3 separate regions of the Homo sapiens genome follow, and regions 1 and 2 are each linked to region 3. The links come from fine-mapping of genetic effects on gene expression. A gene starts in region 3. Each other region holds a variant in brackets. All regions are shown on one strand. Distances are from middle to middle.

Region 1 (8,187 bases), 40 kb before region 3:
CATTTAACATTTTATTGAGATTCTCAACAGCTGCCATTTGGTTTGTATAGCAAATTTTTTACAAAGTAACTTTTTTCCATTTTTGATATTTTTATGAAAATTATTTTCTTCAGTTTTAAAGCCCTGTCCCTCCCCCAAAGAAGGATTAATAACTACCAAGTAATGATTAGGGGAAAAAAAGCAAAAACAGCTTTATAAACACTTGTGAAACAGGGGTAAGTGTCCGAAGTCAAGACCTTCTGGGCCCAGTGGAGGTGCTGGGCTGCTCCGGGACACCATCACCACTTCACCATCCACAACATCCTCAAGAGCTGAGCAGCCCTGCACAGACCCTGGGGGGCTTCCTGTTCCACAAGCTCCACTCCCTTTTTCCTCTCCATCTTTGCTGTTGGGCCTCCCCTCCAAATCTGCCTAACAAAGGCAGCACGATCTTTAATGCCTGTGCAGCTTTGTAAGTGGAGCCAGGTTACTCTGTTTTGAAAGCTGAGATTCCCTGTCCAGTCTGGGGGAGGAAAAATTATCCAATGTAGCATGGATGGTTTCACTTTCTTGTCCACTCAGACACATGCTCATACTTATTAAATGGATTTATTGGATGCTTCAAAAGTCCTGATGTGTAGTAGCACAAAAGTTCCTTGTAAAAAAAGAAGTTGCAAAATTATAAAAATTTCTGCAGCAGTTCTGGCTCTGGATGACAAAGCTCATTCTGATTAGTAGTTTTTTTGACATGCACAGCAGCTTCCCCTATAAGTCCTACGTTCGGAGGGTTCCGTTTAGACAACAGGAAGTTGGAATCCAAGTTTAAAAGGCTCTCTGCTGACAAAATGTGGTACATCCATCAACAGAATTCTACTCAGCAATAAAAGGAACAAACTACCAAGACGTTATCTGTCATGGACAAACCTCAAAAACATTAGCTAAGTAAAAAAGCCAGACCCAAGGGACCACATATTGTATGATTCCATTGATTTGAACTGTCCAGAAAGGGCAAATTTATAGAGAAAGTAGATTAGTGGTTGCCGGGGGTAAGAACAGGATTAACTGTAAAAGAGCATGAAGGATCTTATTGGGAGGGATAAAAATGTTCTAAAACTGAGTAATAGTTACAGCTACACCACTGAGGGAAGTTACTAAAATCACTGAAATGTACACTTGAAATGGGTGTTTTATGATATGTAACATATGCCTCATTAAAGTTGTTTTAAGAAAAGGATTCCCTGCCTCCCAAACCATCCTTCAAGCATTAAACATTTTTGGAGGCTCATAATCAACAGGACAGAATAACTACTTAGTGATGATTTACAGAGTGAAATATTTTACTGTTTTGTAGTAAGCACATTTTAGTAACTGTACACTAGTACAATGTTTTTAAGATTTTATCTCATTTTTGTCATATTAGCCTAAAATGTTTATTTTTATTTAAAAAGTAGCCAATAGGAAGGTAAGATTGGGGAGAAAGCTCAGTAAATGTCACAAAAGAGACTCCTAGTAACACAATCTGAGGGAGCTTTTTCTTTTGAAATAAAGATGGTGCATCTGTCCCTTTACAGATTTCTCTCCTGTCCCCTGGGACTGGGGAAGGTGAATCTCCTGCCTGACACCTTGTAGAGATTAGTGTATCCAGCTATTCTATTGCCACGATGCCTCTAAAAACCAGACTGACTGGGAACAGCAGTAGGGGGTTGGCCAGTGAGGGCAGGTGACTAAGTGGTGTGCAGGAAACTCGCATGTTTCCCTGGGTTGGCTTCCTGCTCCCCTGTCCCTGTCACCAATAGCAGCTTCATTGTGAGAAGATTAAAACAAAGGAAAAAAACCCAAAAAAACTGTTTCCAAATTGTAACTAACCAAGTCTGTGTAGGAAATTCACAAGGCAGCAGAGCAGAGGCTGCAGAGGTGCTCTGTCTACCGGGAGAACTAATGATCCCTGTGAGCAATGCAGGGTGCAATGAGTCACATGGGGAAATGTGGACAGAGGCAGAAGGACATCAAGGCCCCCACTACACACCAAATTAGAGTCAATCCTCCTGTTCTCCCCACCCACTTCGCAAACTAATGACGTCCGCGTTATCCCAGAGGAGAGTGGCTAGGGACACTCAGTCCTTCCCAATTATGTGGACGTCTCCAAATCTTGGTCAAATCTGTCAGATTTCTAACAGTTTCAATACCTCAATATCACCTAAACTGAGAAAGATTATTAGCCCGTGATGGTGGGACCCTTATTGACGAAGGCCTGCCCCCTCCTCACAGTTGGGTAGATTCCTGGGTTCCTGATGGTTCAGGAGCCTGGGCTGTCATTTGTCTACCTGGGGTTTGCAGCAGCCCTAGTACAAGAAGATTCATTCGTGCTGTTTACTTTGGCAGCCTCTTCACACAACTTTCCTCTCTAACACGTGTTAATTATCAGAGTATTCACCTCACCTCCTTACTTCCCAGCTTCTCCAAAATCAAAGCAATAGTAATAAACAATTTGGAAAATGTTGCTTAGTATTTTAAGCCATGGTTAGCATTATAACCTTAATTAAAGAGACCCCAGGCTGGGGTGGCTCACCACACCCAGCCTATAATCCCAGCACTTTGGGAGGCTGAGATGGGAGAATCACTTGAGCACAACAATTCAAGAGTAGCTTGGGAAATAGAGCAAGATCCAGTCTCTACAAAAAATAAAAATAATAAAAATAATTAGCTGGCCGTGGTGGTGCGTACCTGTTGTCCCAGCTACTCGGGAGGCTAAGATGGGAGGATTGCTTGAGCCTAGGAATTTGATGCTGCAGTGAGCTATGGTCATACCACTGCACTCCAGCCTGGGTGACAGAGTGAGACTATGTCTCAAAAAAAAAGAAAAAAAAAAAAAAAAGAGGGACCCCAGCTGCTGTGACTTTGGAAACTAAAGGTGTTAACAAAGGTCAAGCCTTTCCTTAGGATCGTTTCTGGTTTCACCCTTATGTGATTCCCAAAACTCAACTATTATTGTCAGAAACTGGCCCAAAGACCCAGGGCTGCATTTGCCCAGGCCTAGGCTGTATCCTTGAATTTTCTGCTGCAGTTCAAAGGCCTGGAGAAACTGAAAATGCATTCATTTGGGTTTTTTCCCTTGAAAAGAAAGAGATAAATTATTTTCATCTTGGAATTTTAGAGTTGAATAAATAATCCCAATAATTACAGATCAATCACTAATAAACTAACATTGGGACCAGCCAGATTGGCAACTGTTAGAAATACATGTTCCATTTCTATACAAATTCTCAAACTTCTAGTTGCCAATTTAAAAAAGTTTAAACAAAGTAGTGGCTTAAATTCAACATCAAAATTACCCCTTATAAATACAAGTCTTACCATTAAAGGGTAAAGGTGTCCAGTCTGGCTTGCTGGTTCTTCTTCTGTGAGAAAAGTCACTGACAGCCAGAGGCTCCCAGCCTTTCCCCAGTGAAGGTCCAACAAGACACACATGCATTTTCTGCTAAGAAGGTAGCAAACTCTAACTAGCCTGTGTTGTGAGTGACAATTGTGCCCCTACCTCCCAACATAAATAGATGGCAAAAAGAGTTGGACTACAAGAGGAACCGCCGGAAGCAGAGTCCTATGCATTTAAAAAAGAATCAATTTGCTAGCTGCTTCCTATACCTGGAGTCAGTATGTTCAGTGTCTGAAGAAGACTAGAAATGCCAGCCCTCAGTGTCCATGCTAAACTGGCAGGAAGTTTTCATAGTCCTGAAGACTGACATCCAAAACAGACCAGCACAGCAGAAGGAAAGACAAGCTCCTTTCTCTCTGCAATCCCAACGCATTTCTAACAGCCTTCGGAATTCTGAGCTTGGACAGGCTCACGAGGATGAAGGAGGAAAAGCAGTCCCAGAAGGGAGAGATTTCCTCTATGCACTTGCAATGCCCTTTCCCTTTTAGA[G/C]GAAACAACCCAGCTGAAAGCTGAAGCTTGAATAAAGAAGTTTCTTTATTCATAGTCCTCTCTGAAAAAGAGTTAACAGTTTCATTCTCTCAACATAGAGGCTTTGGGAATTAATGTGTCTGTCTGGTAATGCAAGTTCTCTAAGCTACTCTCCTATGACATGTGACCTAACAAGGAAGGCAATTTTTTCAAATGATATAATCCTAAAGACTCAAATAGGAAAAAATGTGTATTTTAAATCTGGCATTAGCTTATCACTGTTCAAAAAGTCAACGAGAGCTCATAAGGAGAATTTCTTCAGCTTTCCATACCCTAGTCCTTTCCTTCCAACCTCTGTCCCACAGCCACATACTGAATTTATACCAACTTTGTTTCAAGTTACATATCTTTTCCCTATTAGGCCTATCACACAGCACAGTAGCAATCAGAAAGAAGCCACTATTATCTTCAGGGCTCTCCAATTCCTCATCCCTGGGAGAATGGCCTGGATGGCTCTCCTGTACCCCACACTGCCATCTACATCTCTATACACGAAGGTAGCTCCTGGCACCCAGTTTAGTTCCTTAGGGGTAGCAACAAAAGACCCCAGCAAGTTAAAGGCAGGAAAGACAAAGAAACACACCCTAAGAGGTCAATCTACAAAACTTGCAAAGCTGGGTATGTGGGAACAGTAAAATGTTTTAATAGCTGAAAAGATCCCAGAAGGTCAGGTACACAGTCACATGGGTCAAGCAGGACTCACTTTCCTAGGCTGATTTTGAGTTCCTTTCCATAATTCTGTAATGTGGGAAGAAATATCCAAACTGTGAACTGAGCTTCTTACTAGTGTCCTGAAAAATATTTCCTTAAAAAAGTGCATAAACTTGTCTGAGGGAATTAAGACACCAGGAAGACCAAGTGTTGATGAGGCTGGAAAAAAAAACTGTCCAAATAAAATTAAGACACAACAGATTCAAGGATGACTTCTGCAGGCTCATGCTAATTGCCAGCACAGCAGGCCTCCCCTATGCCTTTGGTAGCAGTATCTTTTCTTAAAAAGGAGGCTGGGGAATAGACTTCATGAAAGATGAGGTGGCAGATCAACCCTAGTGCTCTTCTACTTATAAATGGTGAGTCTGATGGTGGTGGTGAACACAGGCTTATGAACAGGACAACAGTAACTAAATGACTCAAGTGACAACCACCATCACAGCCCTACCTTCTGATTTACAACTTTCAACAATCATCAAAAGTTACTGTAAACTAAGTACTTTAAGTCTGTGTTTTCTTGAATGGGGTTCAGGACAAACAGGCAAGGGCTTGACAGCACATTGGTTATCCGAGTTCATTGCAGGAGACCCCGGGGGTGGGGCAGCTGAGCCTCAAATTCCAGTTTGCACCACCTGCTCTTTCTGCTTGTCCCTTTTCCCATCCAACTCAATAGATTCCACAAAAAGCTCTCCAGGTGCTCACTGTCCCTGATAAGTATACAGCAGGGTGAGAGGGGCATTTCCTAAATATCCAGTTTTTCTTAGTCAGCTTATTTTGTTTAAATACACACCGCGGAACACTTCTGATGAAGGGGGGAAAATGCAATTTCCTTAACTCGAAAGAGCTATTTAAAAAAACAAAACAGGAAACTCCCCAAACAAAAGTCAGCAGAACAAAATAGAAATACTCAGAGGCTTAGAATAAGACTGAGCATATTAGTTACTCAGAGTCACAGTATTGTGAGACCACCACTCCCCTTCCCGCTGTGCACCCCTCGCCCGCCCCATCCCCCTCTTCAGCTCCACCATTTTGTGCATTACTATCCCCAGATGTGGGGACAGACAAGTCTTCCTCAAAGCTTTCTCGGCTCAGTACTTCTCTCCTGGAATAAACTCCTTGGCATCTGGGTTCAGGTTACTTTTGCTCTGAAATAAGAACCAAGAGATAGTAAATCCTAAGGCAAGCTGCATTTTAAAACTTACCCAGTCCATCATTATCAGTACCTTCCCCTTAGCTTTAGGGAGAGAAAGAAAATTCCTTGTAACTCAGGCTGTTATTGCTAGGTTATCTCAACTGCACCTGACATAGCCCTGAGCAAGCTCATCTTCTCCTTCCTTCTTTGGACTCTTGTTTCCTTCCTGATGCTTTCCAAAATCTCATCAGAGGCCTGTAAGTTCAACTCCAAGAATAATTTTTCAATTCACTGAGTACCTTAACTTGGTGAAAACCAGGGTACTCCATCAGACCAGGCTGGATACCACAATCTCTATTTTTCTTCATCTTTCTGTACTCTCTTTGGTTCTCTACTCTCTTGTGAATATCCAAAACCTTAGCAAACCACAGGGCAAGATTGTTCAGAATATGAGTTGTATGAAAACTATATTGCTCACAGACTTTTTTTTTTTTTTTTTTTTTGAGACAGTCTTGCTCTGTTGCCCAGGCTGGAGTGCAGTGGTGCAATCTTGGCTCACTGCAAACTCCGCCTCCCTCTGCCTCCCAGGTTCAAGCAATTCTCCTGCTTTAGCCTTCCAAGCTGGGACTACAGGCGCGCACCACCATGCCTGGCTAATTTTTGTATTTTTTTAGTAGATATGGGGTTTCCATGTTGGCCAGGCTGGTCTTGAACTCCAGACCTCAGGTGATCCACCCGCCTCAGCCTCCCAAAGTGCTGGGATTACAGGCGTGAGCCACCGTGCCCAGCCTGCTCACAGACTTCTGATGTTACATAAATATGAAAGGCAGGAAATTAATTTATCTGGTTTTCTAATTCTAAGTGGAGAAAATGACCTCTCAGGAGTACATTTCTTCCAAAATGAACAGCTAATTTTTATAACAGAATCATTTAGAAGTATATTAAATACAGATTTGAGGGACAGTAAAAGAGAAGAATAGCAACAAATGATATTTGAGAAGAAACTTCTTCAGTGTTCAAATTGTTATCCTTAATCCCAATTCTACTTTGAAGAGCCCATTAGAAAGTAAAGGTTGGTGGCGTCCAATCTTGGCAAGTAAAAAGCCCGTGATGCTGGCAACAGTAATGTTTTATAGTGCTTTATGAGGAGCAATGCATCTTTAATGCACCCCTTATTAATAATGCCCATAAAACGAGCAAAGAAACAACAGCTCACAGGGCTCCAGACTTGTTGAGGGTTGTAGGGCTGGAAAGAAAGTCTGTCATTCCAAATCCTATATTCTTTTCACTACATAACCTGGGGAACTACATATGGCTCTTACCAAAATATCTTCAGAATCATGACCTTCACTGACTGACAGTCCATTTAACTGCTGTTGCAACTGTCCCATGGCCTGAGGCAGGTCTCGTGAGGGAATAAACCAGTCTTGGTCTTCTTCATCCAGCATCTCTTGGAAGCAGCGGTCCAAGAAGTCTTGCTCCTGCAGTTCCTCCTCCACCTAGCAAGCAAAGGGGAGCAGCTCAGACTTACTGTCACAGCAAGACTTACCCCTTCCAGTTTTTCCTCCACCTCTTTCCTTCAGAAGGTATTACTCTGCAATTAAGAATGATCTTGAGCTGGGTGTGGTGGCTCACAACTGTAATCCCAGCAGTTTGGGAGACTGAGGCAGGAGGATTGCTTGAGGCCAGGAGGTTTGAGACCAGCCTGAGCAACATAGCATGACCCTGCCTCTACAAAAAAAATTTTAAAATTAGCCAGGCCATAGTGGTGTGTGCCTGTAGTCTCAGCTACTTGGGAGACTGAGGCTGGAGGACAACTTGAATGCAGGAGGTCAAGGCTTCATTGAGCCAAGACTGCGCCACTGCACTTCAGTCTGGGCGACAGAATGAGACCCCGATTCTTTAAAAAATAAAAATATATTTAAAAAAAAGATTTTATGATCTTACATGAGGTCCAAGGGATCTAAGGATTCAATGCGCCTAATGACTAGCTAGAGATAGCATAATTTTTATTTTTTCTCAACCAAATTCTATCACTAATAAGACTAAGAAAATAGTTATTCACAGTAACAGAAATTCAAGGTCTCCGCAGATGTTCTACGATCTCTAATAGGTGATACAGATATCATGGAAAATCATTTTAGAGCCTAAAATTCTTTTCTCAGTCTTGTTACAAAGTAACCCTTCTTAAATTTCCCATTTTATAAGAAATATGAAAAAGATACTGCAAGTATATAACTAGTTCATGACCTGGCTAGTGGAGATAAAATCAAAGCCAATGCTCTCAGCTTCTGGCCATTTTTTGGGTAAGGAAACCCTCAAGGGAGAAAAATACTTTCAGAACATTAGGAAGACATAAAGAACACTTTTTGGCATACCAATAGAAAATTACATAATCAATGTA
Region 2 (8,187 bases), 190 kb before region 3:
TTTCTACTTATCTGTATGGCAAGGGGTGAGACGTCCATCCTCTGAGACTCAGCACTCTCATCTGAGTTGATTTCTAGTTGATCCAATGGAAGTGAGCGATGATTAAACCAATCGTGGGTGCCTGCTGCGTGATCTCTATGTGATGGATGCGTAAAGTAAAGGCAAAGTGAATTTTAGATACATTCGTTAGTATTTTAAGCTTAAACTCCATACGGTTCAACGGAAATGTCCCCTGACCTGAAGTTCTGGTTTCCCTGCATTCCGGACAGGACATTTTATTTTGTCCTTATCTCAGTAAGTACTGAGTATTGTGAGAGGAACAAGTGAGTCTCTTTTGTTTCTGATTCCCCAGAGCCTATATCTTGCTTGGCATCAAGGAGATAGCAAAGTAAACATCTATGTGAATTGTTGAATTGACACTTCCTTGGTTCACAAAAATTGGCTGTCATCGGTGTGACGTCAGTGTGACAGAGCGTGTGTTTTTGGTTTTTTGTTTTTTGAGAAGGAGTTTTGCTCTTGTTGCCCAGGCTGGAGTGCGGTGGTGTGATCTCGGCTCACTGTAGCCTCTGCCTCCCAGGTTCAAGCCATTCTCCTGCCTCAGCCTCCCGAGTAGCTGGGACTACAGGCGCGCGCCGCCATACTGGGTGAAGTTTTTGTATTTTCAGTAGAGGCGGAGTTTCACCATGTTGGCCGGGATGGTCTTGATCTCCTGACCTCGTGATCCACCCTTCTTGGCCTCCCAAAATGCTGGGATCACAGGCGTGAGCCACCGCGTCCGGCCAAACGTTCTGATGAAAACTCTAAGTCCACCGAAGCTAAGGACAGGAGTTACAGCTTACATGAATTTTAAAACAAGACCCACCGATTTGAGTAAGAAATTACTCTCTTGAAGGAGAAAAGTCAGAAAACATATTGATGACATCACTAGGACCTAACTGGCCTGTGGAACTATTTTCTGCTTATGAACTATCAACTTTAATTTCATTTCCAGATGGCATGGTCTCAGCAGTTATACAGTGTTTACAGATGTTCTAAATCAAGGGAATTTCTATCAATCTCTTCGAATAAAATAAAATATTTGAGTTCTTAATTTCCTTTCACTAGGATAACCTTTTTCTTACAGTGAAGAGAATGGTTTTATTACATAGTTTCCTTCGGTAAAGATAGGCTGTCTTTTCTAGCAATTATGAATTTGTTATATATGATGATCTGGTTCTTGGAACATTCTTGAATCTAGTGTCTCTGAGGCAGGTGTGTACAGCAAGAAGTGAATAACACAGAAATCAATGATGAAAGCATTAGAAGACAATTGAGTTTGTCAGAACTGCAAAGTATTGCTGAATGTGGCTTGCTCTGAAATCTGAAAACATTACTTGCGAATTGTTTCTATCCAAAATGCAGACATGATTCTGGGTGTTGGTTTACTTGTTTCCGATTTCTCAATCCTCTTTTCTAGGCAAAAGGTGTCCAATCTCTACAGACCCACAGAATCTAACAGATGTCTCTATATTCCTCCTCCGAGAACCTCAGAGGATCCAGAATGGCAGCTGGTCCTTGCTGGGTTGTTCCTGTCCATGTGCCTGGTAACGGTGCTGGGGAACCTGCTCATCATCCTGGCCGTCAGCCCTGACTCCCACCTCCACACCCCCATGTACTTCTTCCTCTCCAACCTGTCCTTGCCTGACATCGGTTTCACCTCCACCACGGTAGCCAAGATGATTGTGGACATCCAATCTCACAGCAGAGTCATCTCCTATGCAGGCTGCCTGACTCAGATGTCTCCCTTTGCCATTTTTGGAGGCATGGAAGAGAGACACGCTCCTGAGTGTGATGGCCTCTGACCGCTTTGTAGCCATCTGTCACCCTCTATATCATTCAGCCATCATGAACCCGTGTTTCTGTGGCTTTCTAGTTTTGTTGTCTTTTTTTTTTTTCTGTCTTTTAGATGCCCAGCTGCACAACTTGATTGCCTTACAAATGACCTGCTTCAAGGATGTGGAAATTCCTAATTTCTTCTGTGACCCTTCTCAACTCCCCCATCTTGCATGTTGTGACACCTTCACCAATAACATAATCATGTATTTCCCTGCTGCCATATTTGGTTTTCTTCCCATCTCGGGTTCCCTTTTCTCTTACTATAAAATTGTTTCCTCCATTCTGAGGGTTTCATCATCAGGTGGGAAGTATTAGGCCTTCTCCTCCTGTGGGTCTCACCTGTCAGTTGTTTGCTGATTTTATGGAACAGGCGTTGGAGGGTACCTCAGTTGAGATGTGTCATCTTCCCCGAGGAAGGTTGCAGTGGCCTCAGTGATGTACATGGTGGTCACCCCCATGCTGAACCCCTTTGTCTACAGCCTGAGAAACAGGGATATTAAAAGTGTCCTGCGGTGGCCGCACGGCAGCACGGTCTAATCTCAATATCTTCTTATCTGTTCCATTCCTTTTGTAGTGTAGGTTAAAAAGGCAGCAAGGTCAAATAAGAATGATATCACAGGGTGAACACCCACTGTGATATTAGGAGTAATACCTCCCTAGGATATAGAATATTCTGTCACAGAGTATAGACACATGGGGTACACCCACCGTGATATTAGAAGCAATATCTCCCTAAAGTAGGAGGAAAAATATCACAGGGTGTGCACACTGTGTGATATGAGGAGTAATATTTACCCTGGATATTACAACTAATATCAAGGGTGTACACACACGGGGTACACGCACTGTGATATCAGGAGTTGTATGTCCCTAGGATATTACGAATACTATCACAGGGTATACACTATGTGTGTACATCCACTGTGATATTTGAAGTAATATCTCTCTATGAGATTATAAATAACATCAAAGCGTGTACACCCCTGTGACATATTGGAGTAACATCCTTCTAGGGTATTACAGATAACGTCACAACGTGTACACCTTCTGGGACGTTTTGTACACTCTTTGTGACATTAAAAGAAACATCCCCCTAGGATATTATGAATAATAACACAGGAGGGGTACACACATGGTGTACACCGCCTGTGTCATCAGGTGTAACATTCCCCTAGGATATTACGAATAATATCACAGCAGGTGTACACACATAGTGTACACCCCATGCGACATTCGGAAGAGCATGCCCCTAGGATATTAGGAATAGTATCACAGGCGTTGAATACGCATTTTTAATGTGTAACGTCACCCCCGGTGACATTAAAAATAACATCCCCCTTGGATATTATGAATAATATGACAGGGAGTACACCCCACGTGACATTAGGAGTAACATCCCCCGAGGATATAATGAATAATATCAGAGGGTGTACATGCATTGTGACCTTAGTAGTAACATCTCTTTAGGATATTACAAATAATATCACAGGGTGTACAGGCATTGTGACATTAGTAGTAACATCCCGCTGGGATATGATGAGTCATATCACAGGGTGTACACCCCCGTGACAATAGTAGCAACATTCCCCTAGAATATTACGAATAATATCACAGGAGGTACAGCCCCTGTGATTTACGAGTAACATGTCTATAGAATATTACAACTCATATCACTGTGTGACTCTGGGTACACCCCGTGTGACTTTAGGAGTAACATCCCACAAAACTATGACGAAAAATATCACAGGGTGAACACCCCCTGTGACCTGAGGAATAACATAGTTTTAGGATATTATCAATGATGTGACAAGGTGTACACCCCCTGTGACGTTAGGAGCAATATCCGTCTAGGATGTTAGGAAGAGTATCACACGGAACACACCCCCTGTGACATTAGGATATGACAAATAATATCACAAGGTGTACACGCATCGTGACATTAGTGCTAATATCCCTCTGGTACACTATGAATAATATCACAGGGTGTACATCCCTGTGACATTAGGAGTAACATCCCCCTAGAATAGTAAGAATAATAACACGGAGTGTACACCCCCTGTGACATGAGGAGTATCATCTCGCTAGAATATTATGAATAATGTCACAGGGTGTTATCGTCTGTGCCAATAGGAGTATAGACCCCTGGGAAATTATGAATACTATCACAGGGTGTACAGCCCTGTGACATTAGGAGTAGCATCTTTCTAGAATATCACGAATAATATCACAATGTGTACACCCACTGTGTCATTAAAAGTAACATTGCCCTAGGATATGATGAAATAGAACACAGGGAGTAGACCACTTGTGACATTACAAGTAACATCCCCCGAGGATATAACCAATAAGATCGGAGAATGTACCTGCATTGGGACATCAGGAGTAACATCTCTTCAGGACAATACGAATAATATCAAAGGGTGTACACGCATTGTGAAATTAGTAGTGAACTCCCGCTAGGATTTTAGGAATTTTATGACAGGGTTTACAGGCCCTGTGACATTAGCAGTAACGTTTTCCTAGAAGATTACGAAGAATAGTAAAGGGTGGACAGGACCTGTGAATTACGAGTAACATTTCCATAGCATATCGGACGTAACATCACTGTGTGCACACGCCGTGTGACATTAGGGGTAACATCCCACAAAATTATAGCGAATAATTTCACAAGGTGTGCAACCTCTGTGACATTAAAAGTAACATTTCCCTAGAATATGACGACAATATCACAGAGTGTACACCCTCTGTGATATAAGGAGTGACATCTTATGACGTTAATACGACTAATTTGACAAGGCGTACAAACCCTGTGACATAAGGAGTGACATCCCTCTAGGACATTATGAATACTATCAAAAGGAACATACCCCATGTGACAATAAAAGCAACCTCTCCTTAGGAGAATAAGAATAACACCACAAGGTGTACACACAATGTGACATTATTACTAAGGTAAAGGTAGGATATTGGGAATAACATCACAGTATACAGAGTCCTGTGACATCAGGTTTACAATTCCCCTACAAAATTACGAATAATATTGAAGGCTGTATACCCCC[C/T]GCGACTTTAGCAGCCGCATCTTGCTAGAATATGGAAGATAATGTCCCAGGGTGCGAACCGAGGGTGGCAGTATAGAAAGGATCCTAGGAAAAATCAGGAAGTAAGAGCCAGCCCCTCTTCCCCACCCTGGCTCTTAGGACCCCCATTGCAGGGGGGTGAGGCACCACCCGCGATGCGGGGAGTAAGAAAGAGCCAGCCCCTCTTCCCCCCCGGCTCTTAGGACCCCCATCGCAAGGCGGGTGAGGCACCCACCACGATGCGGGGAGTAAGAGCCACCCCCTCTTCTCCCCCTGGTTTTTAGGATCAGCGGTGGACTCACAGCCTGTTTACCATATTGTGAGTAATATCATCTCCCCCTCTGGAGACTATGAACTGTTTCACAGACGGGTGTACACCCTCGGTGTATGGAGGGTGTTCACCCGTCTGTTTTGGGAGTAATATCATCCTCTTCCCCCCTGAATATTAAGAACAGTATCACAGGGGTGTTTCTACTCCCTGCGATGTCGCGTGTCATATCCTCGTCTCCCACGTTGCAATTAGAAACAATATCAGTGGGGGCGTGTCCACCTTCTGTCGTTTTGAAGGTAATATCATCGTCTTGCCTCCAGGATCATGGGAACAATATCCCTGAGGGGTGTCCACTTTCTGCCATATATGTCGTCATATCACCCCCTCCGCCTTGGAATATTATTAAGGACCATCTCACATGGAGGTGTACACTTCCTGCGATATTGGGAGTAATATCAACCTCTGGGCCTCTGAATATTAGGAAGAATATCACAGGGTGGGTGTACACCTCCTGCTCTATTATGGGGAGCCATATCTATCTATTATGGGGAGTAATATATCCTCTCCCTTTCAGGATATTAATAACAATTTCACAGGCTGGGTGAACACACCCTGCGATGCTGCAATTATTGTCATCCTCTCCCCCTCGGGTTACTAGGAACAATATCACAGAAGAGGTGTACACTCCCTGCGATATTGGGAGTAATATCATACGCTTCTTCCGTGAATATTAGGAACAATATCACCGGGTGGCTGTACAATCATTGCTATGTTGGCAGTCATGTAATACTCTACCCGCTGGGTATTAGGATCGGTGTCACAGGGTGAGTGTACACCTACTGTGATATGAAAACTAATATCATGCTCTCCATCCCTGGATATTAGGAACAATATCACAGGTAGTTGTACACCCCCTGCGGCATTAGCAGTAATAATATTATGAATTATTAAACATCAGTCTTGTTAATAATTAGCCATGGTAGTATTAATTAATAGTATAACGTTATTAATCATTAATGATTATTTTCAAGATAGGATTATGCATGATTAACGTTAATTATTAATATTAATGTCACTTTTATTATTAGTTATTAATCTTAATATTAATTATTACTTTATTACCAACATCACTTATGATTGATTGAAGTAACTTTAATTACTGATATCATTATTGTATTATTAATAGTGATATTGCTATTAATTATTAATAGTAACCCTTAATATTTTTAATCCCGATGTTTTATTGTCTCTACTGTAATTATTAATATCGATGATTACTATTAATTGTTATTATATTTATTAATATTAATAATTGAGATAACTGTTCCCGATATCCGTGGGGGAGAGGATATTACTCCCAATATCGCAGAAAGTGGACACCCCTCTATGATGTTACTCCTAATAGCCAGAGGGTAGAAGATGACATTATTGAAAATATCGCAGTGTCGCAGTGGGTGTACATCCCTTCGGTCATCTTGTTCCTAATATCCTGGGTGGGAGCGGATGATATGACTCCCAATATCGCAGGGGGCGGAGACCTCCCCCGTGATACTGTCCCTAACATCCAAAGGTGGAGAGGATGATATTTCTTCCAATTTCGCCGGGGGTGCACACCACCCTTGTGATATTGATCCTAATATCCAGGCGGCGAGAGGATGAATTAGTCTGAATATTGCAGGAGGTGTACACTCCCTAGGGAGATTGTTCCTAATATCCAGGGACGGAGAGGATGATATCACTCCCAATATAGCAGGGGGTGTACAACCCTTCTGTGACATTGCTCCTAAAGGGCAGTGGGGAAGAGGAAGATATTACAGCCAATATCGCAGGCGGTGTATACCCCCTTGTGACATTCTTCCTTATATCCTGGGAGGGAGAGGAAGATACTAGCGGCAATGTCGCAGGGGCTGTACACACCCACTGTGATATTGTTCGGAATATCCCGAGGGGGAGAAAATGATGTTACCTCCAATATCGCAGGGGGTGTACATCCTCCTGTGATATTGTTTCTTATATTCAGGGGGAGAGGATGATATTACTCCCAATATCTCAGGGGTTGTACACACCTCCTGCGATACGGGGAGTAAGAGCCAGCCCCTCTCTGCCCCTGGCTCTTAGGAGCCCCATCGCAGGGGGGTGAGGCCCCCCCGCCGTACGGGGAGTAAGAGCCAGCCCCTATCCCCCCCTGGCTCTTGGGATCCCCATCGCAAGGGGGTGAGGCCCCTGCGATGCGGGGAGTCATATCACCCCCCTCTCCCCCCCGGATATGACGATCCACATCCCAGGGGGGCGGGCGCCGCCCGCGCTGCGGGGAGTCATATCACCCCCCTCTCCCCCCCGATATGACGATCCACATGGCAGGGGGCGGGCGCCCCCCGTGATGCGGGGAGTAATATCATCCCCCCCTTTCCCCCTGGTTATTACGATCCACGGTGGTCACACAGCCTGTTTACGTTATTGTGAGGAATATCTTCTCCGCCTCTGGAAATTACCAACCATATCACACATGGGTGTACATCATCTGCACTATTGGCATTAATAGCATCCTCTTCCCCCTTGTTATGAACAACAATATCACAGGAGTGTCTCTACCCCCAGTGCCATTGGGTGTATTATCATCCTCTCCCACGTTGAAATTAGGAACAATATCACTGGGGGCGTGTCCACCCCATGCGATATTGAAAGTAGTGTCATCCTTTTCTCTCCTGGGTGATGGAAAACATGTCACTGGTGTGGTGTCCAGTTTCTGCGGTATTGGGAGTCATATCATTCTCTCCGCCTTGGAACCTTAAGGACAATATCACTGGGGGGGCTGTACACACCCTGCGCTATTAAGAAGAATATTATCCTCGCCCGCCCTGCATATTAGGAAAAATATCACAGAGTGGGTGTCCACCTCCTGCGATATGGGAGGTAATATCATCTTCCCTTCTTCTGGATAGTACGAACAATATCACACAGGTT
Region 3 (8,187 bases):
AAGTACTAGGGCCAAGAGACAATATGGCTGCTTAGATGACTTTCCATCCAAGTTTACATTCAGCCCTCATCACCAAAGCTGATATGTGTGTGCCTCTTTCTTGCAACCCACCAGGGACTAACACATCATATACCACTTTTGGAATTAGGAAACAGGCTCAGAAGTCCAAGAGCTTGACCAAAGGAACTCAGTTGGTAGGTAGCAGAACCAGAATTCAAAGACCCAGGTCAGCATGATTCTTCTATAATATCCTGCCACTTACATGGGCAAGTGGCCTCAAAATCAACAAAAGACAAGTAGAGGTTGACATGTGACAATGGAGAGAGGCTCAAAAGGAAGTTTGTACACAAAAATACAAAAGGAAATGTTCTGGAAGTATGTCTGGGGATGTGAAGTAGGAGCAGGCACACCAGGTTTACCTTGGTCAAGTGAATCTATAATTCCAACCTGGGCCTTTCCCCAGAGCTCCTGACTTAGCTCTTATCTGTCTTTCTTAGGCAAATATAAAATCCACAGGGCAGGACCTTAATCTCCAGCTTGTTCACCACAGATTAAAGCAGAGTTTGAGGCTGGATGCAGAGGCTCACGCCTGTAATCCCAGCACTCGGGGAGGCCAAGATGGGTGGATTCCCTGAGGTCAGAATATCGAGACCAGCCTGGCCAACATGGTGAAACCCTGTTTCTACTAAAAATACAAAAATTCGTTGGGTGTGGTGGTGTGAGCCTATAATCCCAGCTACTTGGAGTCTGAGGCAGGAGGATTGCTTGACCCAGGATGCAGAGGTTGCAGTGAGCTGAAATCGTGCCATTGCACTCCAGCCTGGGTGACAAGAGCGAAACTCCATCTCAAAAACAAACAAACAAACAAAAACACAGACTTTTTTTTTTTTTTTGAAATGGAGTCTCACTCTGTCACCCAGGCTGGAGTGCAGTGGCACGATTCGGCTCACTGCAACCTCCACCTCTTGGGTTCAATAAATTCTCTGCCTCAGCCTCCTGAATAGCTGGGACTACAGGCTCCTGCCACCATGCCTGGCTAATTTTTTTGTATTTTTAGTAGAGACAGGGTTCCACCATCCTGGACAGGTTGGTATTGAACTCCTGACCTCGTGATCCACCTGCCTCAGCCTCCCAAAGTGCTGGGATTACAGGCATGAACCACCACGCTCAGCCGAGTCTGACTTATGGTAAGTGCTTAATATATGATAAATGAACAAACTGAATGAATGAATATATGATAACTGAATAAATTTATGAATAAATGTACAAACTATCAAATAAGCTAAAGAAATAGTCCACATTGTTGGGGAAAGGGGTTACCATGAAACAGACCCTAGCAGTCACTTACAAATACAGTTCATCTTCATTATTTGTGGATCCCATATTTGCAAATTTGCTTACTTGCTAAAATGTCTTTGTAATCCCCAAATACTTGTGGAGCTTTCAAGGTGACTTATGGATATACACATAGTAGTGAAAAATATGTCACTCCTTGCCCAAGTCCCAAGGTGACCCTCAGCCTTGTCTCAGCCCTCATACAAAGATGACCAGAGGACAGAGACAGCAGAGGGCAGTGCAGCGTAGTGCAAGAAGCTCTGGCTCTGGGGCCATCTGGACGAGTCTGAATCTTAACTCTGGCACCTGTTAGTAGAGAGGCCTCAGGCAAATCGCTTAACACTTCTGTACTTCCTTTATTTTTTGTAAGTAAGGAAAATTCAATCTACCAGGATGAGTTGTTTTTAGGAATTAATTTTGTAATCTGTGTGAGATATGTATATATGTATATATTTTCCCTGGGAACAAGGGTTGAATATTTGATAATTCAGTGTTCTTGGCAACTTTATAGAATATAACTACTGCAAATAATGAGAATTGACTATAATTATTTATAAAGAAATAACAGAGAAGTAGGCAAAACATTTGGATGAGGCAGAGGCAGGCTTCAAGATTTTGAAGAAACAGAATTTCACCAAGCACATAAGGTGTGGAAAAGGCTTGCAAGGAGAGAGAATGGTGCATACAGAGAGAGGTCCAGATGGTGGAAAAAAACAGGTAGGTTCAGGAAATGGCACTTCAGGAAGTCTAGAGCAGTAGGAGATGAGATCAGAACACAGTGCCATCGTGCTTCTCTGCACCCTGTATATACCTTCTACTGCAGAACCTCACTCTCTGCATTTAATTATTGGTTTCTAGTTCTCTCTTCCATTAAACTGTGAGCTCCTCAAGGTCTCTAAGAAGAAATCATAGCTAGAGTCCTCTAAATTTGCAAACAAGTTATTATTAAACACAAATACTCCCAAAAAAGACTGCACAAAAATAACTTTGGTTTTCAGCTGCAGTCACAGCAATTCACAACTGTTACAGATTTGCAATTTGTCCAGGATTTTTCTCTGATGACTGCTGTAACTCTGTCATAAACTCTTTTCCTTGTTTTAGACACCCAGACATTTGTTGGAACAGTTTTAAGATCTTACTCTTTTTAGTGTAATTGATTGATTGGTTGATTGACTGAGATGGGGTCTCACTATGTTGCCCAGGCTTGTCTTAAACTCCTAGGTTCAAGCAATCCTCCTGCCTCAGCCTCCTAAGTGGCTGGGATTACAGGCACACACCACTGTGCTAGGCTCTAGTGTGATTTATTAACAAGGCTTAAACATATGGTCCATTAGACAAGGCTGCCACCTCAGAGTAAAGATTTCTTTTAATTCACTATAATAGACTTTTTTCTTTATATACAAGATACAATTTTACCACAGTAAAATACAAGGAAGCATACTGATACATACATTACAAACAGGATAAAGAAAGCAATATAATTTTTTCCACAAAAGCTTGCAAAATCCTGGCCAAAACACAGTGAACATGATGTTAAACTCATAGCTTACATTTCTCCACTGAAAGCTAGGAAAAACAATTCCAATTTTTGAAAAGTCAGGAAACTAAGCACTGTGAGAATTTACAAGATTTTGTAAACCTGTATATTCTCCCCACCCCGATATACAAGTAGCCAGAGGAGCCTATCAGTCTTACCCCAACACTTCAATCTCCTCCAACCTTCAAAATAAAACCCTCACTGTCCAATATCTGAATTTATATTTTCAAACGTCTAAAATCTTAATCAAAGCTAAGAGCAGTGCATTAGCTTTTCCCCATAAAATTGTTGGCATAATTTTACTTAGGCACAGCATAGTTTGTACTGTTATCAAAAAACATATGGCTAGAACCGACATTACTAGAAACCAAACGAATATACTATGAAGGTGAAAAGGGAACAGGGAATGTTGTTTTTGGACAGATTCAATGCTGTTATTATCCCTTCATAGGTTGGGTGTGATCGAATCACACTGTGCTGTACAACTAAGTATGTTCTATATTTTATGACAAAGTAGGGTAGCCAGGCCCTTACACTACAAACTCCCAGAAACCCCAGTTAAGCTGTTTAAAGTATAATCCAATTCAATTTACTGAAAATAATAGTAACAAAATTTAAATCCCTTGCTTCTAGTTAGCCCTTTTCAACTGCATTTTCAGCAATTACCACCAAAAGAACTGCATTAGGACAAAGATTCTAGAGCGGGTATAATGGTCAAATGCCATTTGAAGGCAAAAACAGTCTACCAGGAACAAAACATTAAAGTTCCCAACCTTGCCAAACTCCCTGTTCTGCGTATTCTGCCTCTCTCAGTTCACCTTCCAGCTGCCTGGAAGAGGCAAGTGGAAAATGTTAGTTTTCTGGAGAGATGAGAATGGAATTTAGGGGTTGGTAGGGGGTGATGGGCTCACTCACGGACCGCAAGGCACAAGAGAAGTGGCGAACGTCTCCCAGGCAAATGAGGCATGAAGAATGAGGGCTGGAGTCAAGGGGGAGATGGAGCAAGTATAAAAAGGCAGAGGACGCGCAGGGGCCGCGAATAGGGGAAGGGCACGACGCGCAATCCCTCCCGCTCCAGCCCGGGGAGAGGGGCGGGGGATGCCGCGCGGGTCAATTTGCCTAGCATTGTTGCACCTGGGTAGAAATGGGACTCAGGCCAAGAATTCGGTTCGAGTGTTAGGAGGACGCTGAGGGGAGTCAGGAACTTGGGTGGGAGTCGGGGGGAAACAGAGCACCTGTGCGGGGGGGAAAGGGACGAAAACCCCCTATTGCTCCCGAGGGGCAGGGGCTGACCCCAGCGGACGCCCCTTTTCGCCGATGGCCGCGACGTGGGACCCCGCGCGCTTTCCCTCCCTACAGGAGCTCGGGCAGGCGCGTGCCGCCCTTCACAGCCCCGACGGCGGCAGAAAGGGAGGCGCAGGGCGCCCCCAGAGCCGGGAGAACGGCGTTTCCCTCGAGTCCTTTCCCCAGCAGCCCGGGCACCCGAGCCCACCTGGGCTAACCAGAAGCCCCTCCTTCAGATCGTACTCTGCCACTCCTCCGAGAGCTTAAGCCGTTGCCGTAGAGGTCGCCGTCGCCACAACAGTCTCGGCCTTTAGTACCAAAACGTGAAGCACAGCACCCGAGAAGCGCCACTACCACTTGCCAGGTTATCTCTTACTGCACACTGCCTCCTCGCCCCGCCCCCGAACCCAAGCCATTGGTTGCCGGGCACCGCCCCATTCGTCTATTGGGCCAAAGAAGATGCCGTTCGGTCACCTAGAATGGCATATGTGGTTTTTATTGGTCTAAATGTGAAGCAGTGCCCGCCCACTCCCTCAGAAGTTTCAGCTTCTGATTGGTTTTAATGTCTGTCTTTTCTCTTCCTTCATTTTTTTTTTCCTGTGGTGGAACACCTCCTTGAGGGAGATGCCGGCTCTGATTGGCTGAAAGGACGCTACGCTAGCCTGGGATAGGCATTGGGCCAAGGATGCGCCCGGCCCACTCGTGGGGGAGGAGACCAAGGCGCCGCACTCTGGGTTTGTTTACACAGGCTCTTGCTCCCGCTTCGTCTATTGGCTGAGCTGGAAGCCACTGCCACCGAGTTTTGCCTGTCAGCCTAGCAAGGAGGAGGGTGGGGGTGGGCCTCAGTAGGATTTCCCTCAGCTGTCAATTACCAAAGGAGGAGCTTTGATTCAGGCTGCTTTGGACCTGGTGCTATTCTCTGTAGGGAAAATTAAGGAATTGGGCTCCTTGGGAGGCTGGAAGGAAGCAAAGGGACGCTGGAAGGAAGCAGACGGATGCTTCCACGTTTCTAGAAACAAACCTAACTTCTTGAGTGCTTTAAAAAAATAAAACTTGGCCGGGCGCGGTGGCTCACGCCTGTAATCCCACCACTCTGGGAGGCCGAGACGGGCGGATCACAAGGTCAGGAGTTCTAGACCAGCCTCGCCAGTATGGTGAAACCCCGTCTCTACTAAAAATGCAAAAATTAGCTGGGCGTGGTGGCGGGCTCCTGTAGTCCCAGCTACTCGGGAGGCTGAGGCAGGAGAATCACTTGAACCCGGGAGGCAGAGGTTGCAGTGAGCCAAGATCGCACCACTGCACTCCAATCTGGGCAATAGAGTGAGGTTGCGACTCAAAAAAAAATACATCAATAAATACAAATTAAAATAAAACTTTATTGCCTCCCTTGGATTTAGAATGTCCAATCTGCTTGCAAAGGACTTCGAATTGTATTCCACAGGAAGTAGGGATTTCTTTGTGGAGCTCTTACTTTATACATTTTTCTCTCCCCCCCACCTCTCAAGCTGACTGTATACATGACACAAAGTTAGGGAATTGCAGAATGAATGGAAAAAATATAAAAATGAAAAAGATAAACTCAAATAACAATTATAAATATTAGCTGTATACTTTGATATGGTTTGGCTCTGTGTCCCCACCCAAATCTCATTTTGAATTATAATTCCCAATGTTGGGGGAGGGACTTGGTGGGAGGCGATTGGATCATGGGGGCAGATTTCCCCCTTGCTGTTCTCGTGATAGTGAGTGAGTTCTCACAAGGTCTGATGGTAAAAAAAGTGTGTGTCCTTCCCCCTTAGCTCTCTCTCCCTCTTGCTACCATGTGAAAACGTGCTTGCTTCCCCTTTGCCCTGATTGTAAGTTTCCTGAGGCCTCACCAGCCATGCCTCCTGTACAGCCTGAGGAACGGTGAGTCAATTAAACCTCTTTTCTTTATAAATTACTCAGTCTCAGGTAGTTCTTTATAGCAATGTGAGAATGGACTAATACATACTTCATATTAAATGATATAAGTAAATAAATAAATTCATTCAACAAGTATTATTTAGCATCTACTATGAATGTTCTAGGCTCTGATCATGGAACTGGGTATATGATATGAATAAGACAGTGAAGATGCACCCATGGTGTTTATACTGTAGTGAAGGAGACTGACAACAGAAAAGTAACCAATAAATAATAAAATGGTATGTTGTGAATAAATGCTACAAAGGAAAATAAAGCAGAGTCATGGGATGGTTGGGGAAATGGCTATTTTAAGTAGGATGGTTAGTTTAAGAGCTGTTTGAGGAAACAGCACTGAACAGAGATGTGAATAATGTGAAGAAGTGAAGAGTGGGAAGGGGCTAATAAGCAGAGCCACTACAGTGCACAACTCCAGGATCACTATTCACATTGCTCCATGTATTTTGAAGTTGTGTATTAGGTGTACATCCATTTAGGGCTGCCAACTCTGGTTTAAAGCTTTATTTGATTACATAATTTAAATGACGCCTGCAAGAAACATGTGTCTTTTAGAAAAAAAAAAATCTCTCTCTAGGATAGCATCCCCATACCCTCCACTGCTTCTTTCCCTGAATTGGCCTTCCGGTGTATGATGAGAGAAAGTTTACACAATCTCATAGGTTTGAAAAACAGGCTCTTCTGGTCCACGTGGTGTCCTTGAGCAGTCAGAAATACTCCTTGAGGATGAACCTTTATTACCAGGATAGCAATGGGATGTAAGGAAGGGTTGATGAACTTCTCTCGTCTCACTTCCTACCACTGGTGCCATCTATTATAAATTCATGGCTGGCTATTACCAGTGATAAAGAGAAAAGTCTTAAAAGCAGGCAGAAAAAAAATATGGCCATTTTAAGTAGAATGGTTAGTTTAAGAGCTGTTTGAGGAAAGACCATTGAACAGAGATGTGAAGAAGTGAAGAGCAGGAAGGGGCTGGGAAACATACAGAGGGGAAAAAATAGATAAGAATTACAGCAAATTTCTTATCAGAAACTATGGAAGCCAAAAGACAATGAAGGAATGAGGTAGCAATGTGGGTATCTGGTGGTGGTGGGCAGGGACAGATATGAGACAAAAACCAGTCATAAAGTTGTAGGAGATGATGTCAATGAGAGGGAGGGAGGCAAGAGAAGCCCATCACCCTTCCCCACATCCTATTGCTATTAGGGCAATAAATCTTCAACCTTGAAGATTACATCATTTCATTTTTTAAAATTTAATTGTGGTAAAATATATATAAAATTTACCATCTTAACTATTTTAAGTGTACAGTTCAGTTACAGTAAGTACATTCACATTTTTGTGCAATCATCACCACAATCCACCTGCAGAACATTTTCATCATTCCTAACAAAAATTCTGTACCCATTAAACACTAACTCCCCATTCTCCCCTTACCCCAGCCCCTGGAAATCACCATTCTGTTTTCTGTATCTGTGAATTTGACTGCTCTAGGTATCACGTGTAAGTGAAATTATGTAATATTTGTCCTTCTGTGTTTGGCTTTATGTCTCCCACGTTTAAGTATCAGAATTTCTTTTCTTTTTAAGGCTGAGTAGCATCATTATAGGTATATGTCCTATTTTGTTTATCAATTCATCCATTGATGGACATTTGGGTTGTTTCTATCTTTTGCCTATTGTGAATAATGTTGGTATGCAAATATCTGTTCAAGGGCCTGCTTTCAATTATTTTGGGTATATATTCTGAAGTAGAATTGTTAGGCCATATAGTAACTCTATGTTTAATTTTTTGAGGAACCACCGTACTGTTTTCCACAGTGGCTGCACCATTTTGCATTCCCGCCAACAATGTACGAAGTTTCCAATTTCTACACATCCTTGCCAACAGTAGTTTCTTTTCTGTTTTTTTTTTTTTTTTTTTTAAATAATAGCCATCCTAATGAGTGTGAAATGGTACCTTATCCAGGTTTTGGTTTGCATTTTATTTTATTTTTCCCATAACTCAGAATGCAATTTTATTTCATTTATTTTTCAAGACAGGGTCTTGTTCTTTCACCCGAGCTGGAG

Direction of the effects. Alleles are on the strand shown, and positions count from the first base shown. SD is a standard deviation of normalised expression in the study named.
For the expression in spinal cord of the gene that starts at base 4,540 in region 3, C is the high allele of the variant in region 1 and G is the other (small effect, 0.31 SD a copy in GTEx).
With allele T in place of C in region 2, the expression in amygdala of the gene that starts at base 4,540 in region 3 is higher (small effect, 0.26 SD a copy in GTEx).

What was found. PIP is the estimated chance that this variant, and not a neighbour inherited with it, causes the effect.
Region 1: its variant is fine-mapped to the expression of PAIP2B in spinal cord (GTEx, PIP 0.97).
Region 2: its variant is fine-mapped to the expression of PAIP2B in amygdala (GTEx, PIP 0.98).

Annotation. Positions count from the first base shown.
Region 1 is chr2:71,182,740-71,190,926 of GRCh38, forward strand. It overlaps PAIP2B (poly(A) binding protein interacting protein 2B), which reads right to left. Exons shown (of 4, transcript NM_020459.1): 3 at 7,106-7,282; 4 at 1-5,796. The coding sequence ends at 5,740. Among named protein-coding and RNA genes, the nearest start is that of PAIP2B, 40 kb to the right of the region's middle. RefSeq lists enhancers at 1,224-1,725, 1,726-2,225. The variant G/C (reference allele first, on the strand shown) is at 3,902.
Region 2 is chr2:71,036,257-71,044,443 of GRCh38, forward strand. It overlaps the pseudogene OR7E46P. Among named protein-coding and RNA genes, the nearest start is that of NAGK, 28 kb to the right of the region's middle. The variant C/T (reference allele first, on the strand shown) is at 4,935.
Region 3 is chr2:71,222,564-71,230,750 of GRCh38, forward strand. It overlaps PAIP2B (poly(A) binding protein interacting protein 2B), which reads right to left and starts at 4,540. Exons shown (of 4, transcript NM_020459.1): 1 at 4,365-4,540. RefSeq lists enhancers at 3,970-4,470, 4,686-4,825.